2 linked regions of the Homo sapiens genome follow. The protein of the gene in region 2 binds, or shares a complex with, the protein of the main gene of each other region. Each region holds a gene or a part of one and is shown on either strand. Other genes may lie near its edges.

Region 1 (3,753 bases), on a different chromosome or scaffold from region 2:
CAGATGTAGGCAGCACCCTCCCTCTACCTCTTGGCCATGGAGGATCCCAACAGCATTTGTGCAGGTAGGGAAAAGAACAGCAATAATAAAATAGCAGCAGCAGCAGTAGTCACCATTTATTGAGCACTTACTATTTGCCAGACACTGTGCTAAGTGCTTTACTTATATTATCTCATTTATTTCTCACAACAACTCTATGTGGTGGGTTCATTTACAAATAAACTAAGGCTTAGAGCAGCTAAGCAACTTGCCAAAAGTCACAAAGGTACTAAGTCACAGAATTGGGTTTCAAATGTAGGTTTGTCTGGTTCTTAGCCAGCAAGCTCTGCTGGCCCCAGCAAGAGGCATCTAGAACAACATATATGTCAACCAAAGATTCTAGCCTCAGGGTAAAACCACCCTACAGATGGGAACTAAGCATCCACCCACTTACCTCAGGAAAAAGAATAACCTAGAACAGCTCTGTGACTAGAAAACACATACAGAGTCACTGAAATTCTAACTTGGGTAATAACTGGCAATAAGAGCCTCCCCCTTCTGATCTCACACTTATGTCTTCTTCCCAGCCTGGCAAGTCTGGTTGCCTATTCATAGCTCTCACACAACTCTTTCCCCAGCACTCCTTTCTCTCTACCCTTCTCATCAAGAGAGACGGACTACAGGAATGCAACCTAGAGGCATCATGAGCCCCAGCTCTTGTGGTATAGGGTCTGTCACTTTCCACCTGGTTCCATCCCTTAGAACAGGACATGGCATGTATTAAGTGCTCAATAAATATATCATTGAATGAATAAAGGAGTGAACAACTTTACCTCCCTTGGCCGCAGTTTCTTCATCTGGGGGTGTGGGAGAAGGTGCAAGGACTACATCAGATGAACAGTCTCCAAGACTCCTTCCTGCTCTAACAGTGTATACTGTTTAATGAACACCACCCCTGAGATGAGTCTCTGCTAGGAAATCTTCCCTATCTCTTGCTTCTCTGCCAAGCTCCCATCCCTCCAATGGTTCCAGGTACCTCTCTGATGTTTTAAAACAGGTACCATGGGCTCTCTACAGACTCAATGGCGGGGGCGGAGGGGGGGGGGGTCCACAGAGCTTAGCTACACAGCTGAACTGAATGATCCTCTTATCCCTAAATCTAAAGCTTCAAGAGGAGGAATAGCATGTTCTCTCCACACCACCACCCCCCTCATACCCAGGACAGAACTTGCTGGACAGCAGATGGCCATGCCGATCCTCTGAAACAGTGGTTCTTCACTGGGTAATTAGTTCTACCCTCCCCAAGGGTTTTTGAAAACATGCATGAGGAGGGTTTGAGTTTGTCACAAAGACCAGGCAATGGGGGAGGGGATGCGACTGGCATTTACAAAGACCAGGGATACTAAACATCTAGAAATGTACAGGACACTTCTAATAACGAAGAATTATCCTGTCCAAAATGTCACTTAGTGCCCCTATTGAAAAATACTGTCTTAGATATCCTATCACCTGAGTTTCTAAGTAACTTAAGTGTTTTATTTCACTTTGAACTAAAGGAAATACATTACTCTGAGGGCAAAATCAAAACCACAAACCAGGCCAGGTGAGCCTGGGGTCAAAAGGAAGAGTTTAAATTCGGGGAGGAGGATATAGTGTCCAACTGTGTTTAGCGAAGGCCTGGCACAGGGCCAACACCAACCCAAGAAGAAACCATGAGTCCCTAAGGAGCCCTTCTGGGCATGCTTACCTGTAAGAGGGTATCTGTGGGACAGCAAGCATGGGGAGAGTGGAGGGTGTGTCTTGGCCTGCTTCCTCTGGCTCCTTCTTGATCTTCTGCTTCAAACTCATCTTGCTTTTCTTGGGCACTCCCTTGAGGGAGCCACTCACCCCGCCTTGAGCTTCCTGCTCTTCTTCCTCCACCTCTTCCTCTTCTTCCTCCTCTCCATCACCCTCCTTCAGCCCTTCCTCATCGCCAGTCTCACTGATGCTTCTAGGGGAGTCGCCCTTCCTCCTAGCAGTGGCCGCACCTGGTGGCGAGTGGGCCTCACAGTAGGCAGTCTTGCGCACTGTAAAGATGGTGCCATTGAGGCTGGTTTCGCGCATGGGCTCAATCTTCATGAAGAGCCCAGCCCGCTGTGCACATGTCACATGGAATGCTGTGTAGCAGTTCACCTTATGGCACTGGATGGCTGCACCTAGCCCTTTCTGCTTGCAGATATAGCAGGTTAGTTTCCAGCGGGCAGGCGGGATATTGTCAATGCCCTCAATAGGTTCCAAGAACACGGTGTTAGCAAAGCAGACTTCAGGGATCCAGATGGCACACACCACATGGGCCCAGTGCCCATCACTGGTCTGTTTGAAGGCGCCACCCTTATTGGGGCAAAGGATGCAATCCACAGGCCGGGAGGGAGACTGCAGGCAGCAGCGGCATAGCCACTGGCCCTCAGGGATGTATGGGACGCCATAGCACTCCTGGTGTACAGCCAGGTTGCAGATGTCACAGAAGAGAATAACATTGCTATTGTGACATTCATCATCCAGGCACACACAGCAGAAAGCGTCTTCATCGATGAGTGACTGTTGGGCCCCACTGCTGCGACTCTCCAAGTATGACTCTTTCTCAAGCCGGTCTACCAGCAGCTCAAAGGTATCTGCAGACACCAAACTGTGCCCATCTACTCGCCGTTTTTCATTCACCATGTCCAGCCAGGCAAGGTCCTCCTCATCCATGTCATACTCTACCTCTGCATCCAGGTCTTCAGGTGGCTTCTCAATGTAGCGGTAGTAGGCAGCAGGCAGCGGGGGTGCTTCTGGCTGGATGCCTGAGTCCACCATACGGAAGCTGGGCTGTGGGAGGTGGAAGGAAGTACCAGATGCATGCTTGGAGCAGGATTCCTTCTTTTTGCCCTTGGATGAGGGTTTCTTGGACTTGCCAGGGAACTGAGGCTGTTCACTGTTTTCCTTGTTACTATTGCATTCGGTGATATCCTGGGCAGTTAGCTCATCTTCAGTAATGATTTTGAGTGGGTCATAGATGCTGATACGATGCAGGCGTCCATCAATGTCTACCTCGACAATCCGCTGGGCCTGGGCATATGTCAGGGTCTCCCGGGTGGGTGAGCACTTGAGACTGTAGGGGGACGGGGAACGCCGGCCCTCGGCATTCTGCCGGGACTTCCGACGAGGCTTCCTCATGGCACCTGGGAACTGAGGGGACAGGCCTAAGGAGAGAAGGCCAGGAGACTATGAGTTGGATGCCCTTATGCACCCATTCATCCTCCCATATGATCAAGCATCCACCAAGAGGACTGGCTTTTCCCTCTGTCTGAACAACTTGCCCCTCAGGCATCCACATGGCTTGCTCCTTCACTTCCTTTGAGTCTTTCATTTCTTCAAGTGAACAACACTTCTCAGTGAGACCTTCTCTGACCACTTTATCTAAAATTGCAAATCCTTTTCCTCCACCAGCAATCTACCTTTCATTCTGCTTTATTTTTCCCTTTAACATTCATCATCTTATACCATGCTACATAATTTACCTACTACTATGTTTATTGTTTCCTTCCTTCCACTAGAATATAAGCTCCATGAGGGGAAGAATTTTTGTTTGTCTTGTTCACTGCTGCATCCCCAGTTCCTGGAGCAGTGCTTAGCTCCTAAGTAACCACTCAATAAGTATTAGTTGAATGAAAGAAGAAATCAAACACACATGATCCCTGCCCTCAAGGAGCCCTGTCTAACTCAAAAGACAGAAAAGTAAACAGATTATTACAG
Region 2 (3,753 bases):
ATTCATTTCACCTCTTATCTTTTCTCTGCTTTTCCAACTAACTCCTGCTAAATGCTCTACTGGGCTTTAATGGCAATTATACAGCAACAAGATAGTGAAAATGGGGTTATCATAGTAGATTTCCAGGCCACTGCGAATATATTATTTTATATATATGTCTGCACTAGTGCAGTTGTCAAATAGTTCTGTCTAACTCTTCAGAGGTAAGTGGTCATCTGCAGGTTTTTCAGAAGCTCCTATTTCATAAAAGAGATCTTAAAAAGTGGTAATGCTACATTACTATCAGAAGAGAGAGGTATTTTTCTAAAATGTTATCTGGAGTGACAAAAGAGATTTGCTATAGACATGGACAAATCCCTCTCGTTTTAAAATTCCTATGAAAATATTTACATAATTAAGCTCTAATGCTCAGCCAGTAATAAAGTAGGCTGAATGACTGTTTCCAATTCTTACATTCTGCTTCCATCCTGCTGCTTGAAAAATGTCACTTAGTATCACAGCTACTGCCAACAGAAGACCCCAAAATGCCAATGGTAATTAAAAATGTTATTTTCAAAAAATTTCCACAGCTTATGCAAAAGGAAAAGTATTTTTCAACCCTTGAGTTTGAAAAAATGATGCCAAAAAACCCCTAAAGGAATCTGAGAGAATAACAATCACCTATATTTTAAAGCAAAACATAAATGATTTCTTTTGATAAGATCTCAACCTACAACAATCGTTGCTTTAATTTATTTTTCGGTCGTCCAATGGGTTTTGCATATCGTCGTTTTATTTGTGCAGCTTTCTCATGAAGTAGTTTTCTTCCCTTTTTCTTTGGTCTGCAGACTTGGCAAATCCACATCCCTGAATTAATATATATATGAGAAAAATATTTTAATGTTTCATTTTAAGAGAAGATATTAAATATAAGTTGTAGCTGTAATAAGCTGCTCAAGGATGCCTGTATGCTGAACTTTACTCCAAAAAATGCGTCATTCCCTTTGTCATTTTCCTTAGGAAGCCATCACTAAGGTCAATTTCCCTGGAGTGAAGGTGGTGAGGGCAGAGGTGGCCCCTCTCTCAGAATCCTTCCATGAAGCTGTTCCCAACATGTCATTAAGCCTCTCACCAACACATAAACACACATGAAAACTCGCCCCTGTCAGATATTATATCTTTTGATTTGAGGGAGACATTTTCAAATCAGTCCATTTTTGGAATTTCTAGAAGAAAAAAAAATTGTCTTATCATCTCTTTCTGGAAAGTTCCAACACTAAAAAAAAATTATCAGTATAAAATATAATTTTAAAATTTAAATAAAAGTTTTGAGTACTGCAGAACTACAATGATTCAAACTATACATCTAGCATAGAGAAATAGGTCAATGGATAAGAATGGAAAGACCAGAACAACCAAAGCCTACAGAAAAGTTTAGCATATCAAAAGGTCATATTTTAAATCAGTGGAGAAAGGATGAAATGATTCAATAAGCATGATAGAACAAATAGCTATCTATCTGGAAGAGGAATTATTTCCTATCCTTTACAAGAATAAATTCTAGACAGATGAATATTGTAATATGAAAAAATAAAATGTTATAAGTACCAGGAAAGATATGTGGATATTTATATAATCTAAGCATGACTGACATTTAAAACTGAAGCCATAAATAAAAAGATTCATGAATATGACTACACACAAAAAAAGAGCTTCTGCAAATCAGGAAGAAAAAGGTAAAAATCCCAAGAGAAAAATGATTAATGGATAAAAAGAGGTACTTTAGAAAAGATGATATACAAACAGCCAAGAATAAAACACAAGAAATGTTCAATCTGACTACTTAAAAAGAAATAATCAGACATATTTCTATTATCAAACTGGTAAAATTTTAAAAATAATAATACTCTAATCAAATCTAAGATACTGTATGATGCATCTGACTTCAAAAATATTAAAACATTAAAAAAATGTGTCTTAGACTCAAGGAGATATAGTAACGGTGAGTACTGGTCACAATACAGGAAAATAGGTATCCTTCTATACTGCTGGACAGCCTGAAAACTGATACAGCCTTTCATGTATCTAGCCTTTGATCCAACAGTTCCTCCTCTAGGAATTTATTTCAAGGAAATAATTGTGGATGGAAAAAATTGGAAACATTTGTAATATCCACCCTAAGGGACTGGTTAAATAAATTAGAGTTCATTTATATAGAGGGTTGGAAAATCAAATACCTCCAGGAAGGACCTAGATTGTATAATGTATGTGACTGAAGCAAATTGGAACGTAAGACAGCAGGGAGTAGTGAGATTGTGGCAAACTGGAGCACACACGCACCACCCAGAGGACTCAGATTCAAACTTGTAAAAATATTGTACCAACAAAGCATATCTGTGACCCATAGTTGCCAGGTTTGTAATCCCTGCTCTATACTATGGAGTTCTACATACTTATTAAAAACTATGTTTAGGAGAATATTTAATGATGTAGGGGATGCTTATAATCTATTAAGAGGGAGGAAAAAGTACATTACAAAAACATGTACAGAATGTTCCATTTCCCTTCAAAGGGTATGTGAAGGCAGAGAAGGAAATTTCCAATTCATTTTTATTTTTATTCCTTTTTTGTCTATCTGTACTTTTTAAATCTTCCACAATGTAAATTATGGATTTTATAATAAAAAGGCAAAGTTATTTTTAAATGTTTAATATATTGCAAAATGAGGGGAAAAGGCTGAGCTTAGCTGATTTACACAATAAACAGAAGAAAATCCACATTCCATCAGACACAATCAGCTATAAGATCATTCAGATGCTCGTGTTCAAAATATCAACTAATGGCCAAGAAAATGGTGATGGCTTCCTGTTGTAGGACTTTGGAGTCACTATCATCCTCAAAAATATAAAATTTGTTAAGCTCTTAACACTGTGCTGAATAATATGGAAAGTGTTCTAAACTTTTGACCTTAATAATCTAATCTTATTCTAATAGGGGAATGGTTTGGAGAGAGAGATGGTCTTTTCATCCCTGGGTCTGAATTAGAGCCTTTATTTTATATATATGTATATATATACACATATATATATGTATTTTTTTCTATGCTTTTATACTCCTCTATTCACAACCTGTGCTAAACTCAGAAGTATAGGGAAGGTGGGAGGGATGAAAAAAATGCTTAAAGAACCTGTATACCTCTGAGCTGTCAGACCTCAGGACAAAGCTAACCAATATGTAATAAAATACATTTTTAGTACAGTTTAGAAGTTCACCTTTTGGCATTCTGGAAAGTGGTGGGTCACAGCATTCCATATGAAATCCTCTATCACAGGAATCACAAAAAAGCATATTATCCTGTAATATAACATATTAGAGACTAATTGAGACTGAAACCAACTGTAAAAGGCCAAAAATTCTTTTGTTACTGGATTAACATTAATACAATATAAGGAAAGTGCACCAAGATCCTGGTTGCAGTTTGACATCATGTGTATTTAAAGCTTTAGAAAGAAAGTAGCCATACTCTATAAAAATGAAAACACCTTAACACTGGAAATTAGCGAGTTACCTGGAGGCGGATTACGGGAGCCATACTTACAGCATTTCTGCCTTGGACTCTACAGGCACTGCATGTCTTGCATTCGATGCACTGCCACCTTAAGGCCTTTACATTTGTTGTTAATTCAGGACAAAATTTCAAACAGGATGGGTGTCCTATGAGAATAAAAAGCAAATTGCTTGATGGGAATGGTGCCTTTGACTTTTTTAAACTCC

What was found.
Region 1: KAT6B (region 2) and BRPF3 share a complex: the UniProt entries of both Homo sapiens proteins name them as parts of the MOZ/MORF complex.

The regions. Positions count from the first base shown.
Region 1 is NC_000006.12:36,199,744-36,203,496, reverse strand, and holds part of BRPF3 (bromodomain and PHD finger-containing protein 3), read right to left. Parts: intron 3,201-3,753; 5' UTR 3,175-3,200; coding exon 1,727-3,174; intron 1-1,726. UniProt on the Homo sapiens protein: Scaffold subunit of various histone acetyltransferase (HAT) complexes, such as the MOZ/MORF and HBO1 complexes, which have a histone H3 acetyltransferase activity.
Region 2 is NC_000010.11:74,969,600-74,973,352, reverse strand, and holds part of KAT6B (histone acetyltransferase KAT6B), read right to left. Parts: intron 3,694-3,753; coding exon 3,578-3,693; intron 3,334-3,577; coding exon 3,252-3,333; intron 847-3,251; coding exon 714-846; intron 1-713. UniProt on the Homo sapiens protein: Histone acetyltransferase which may be involved in both positive and negative regulation of transcription. Required for RUNX2-dependent transcriptional activation. May be involved in cerebral cortex development.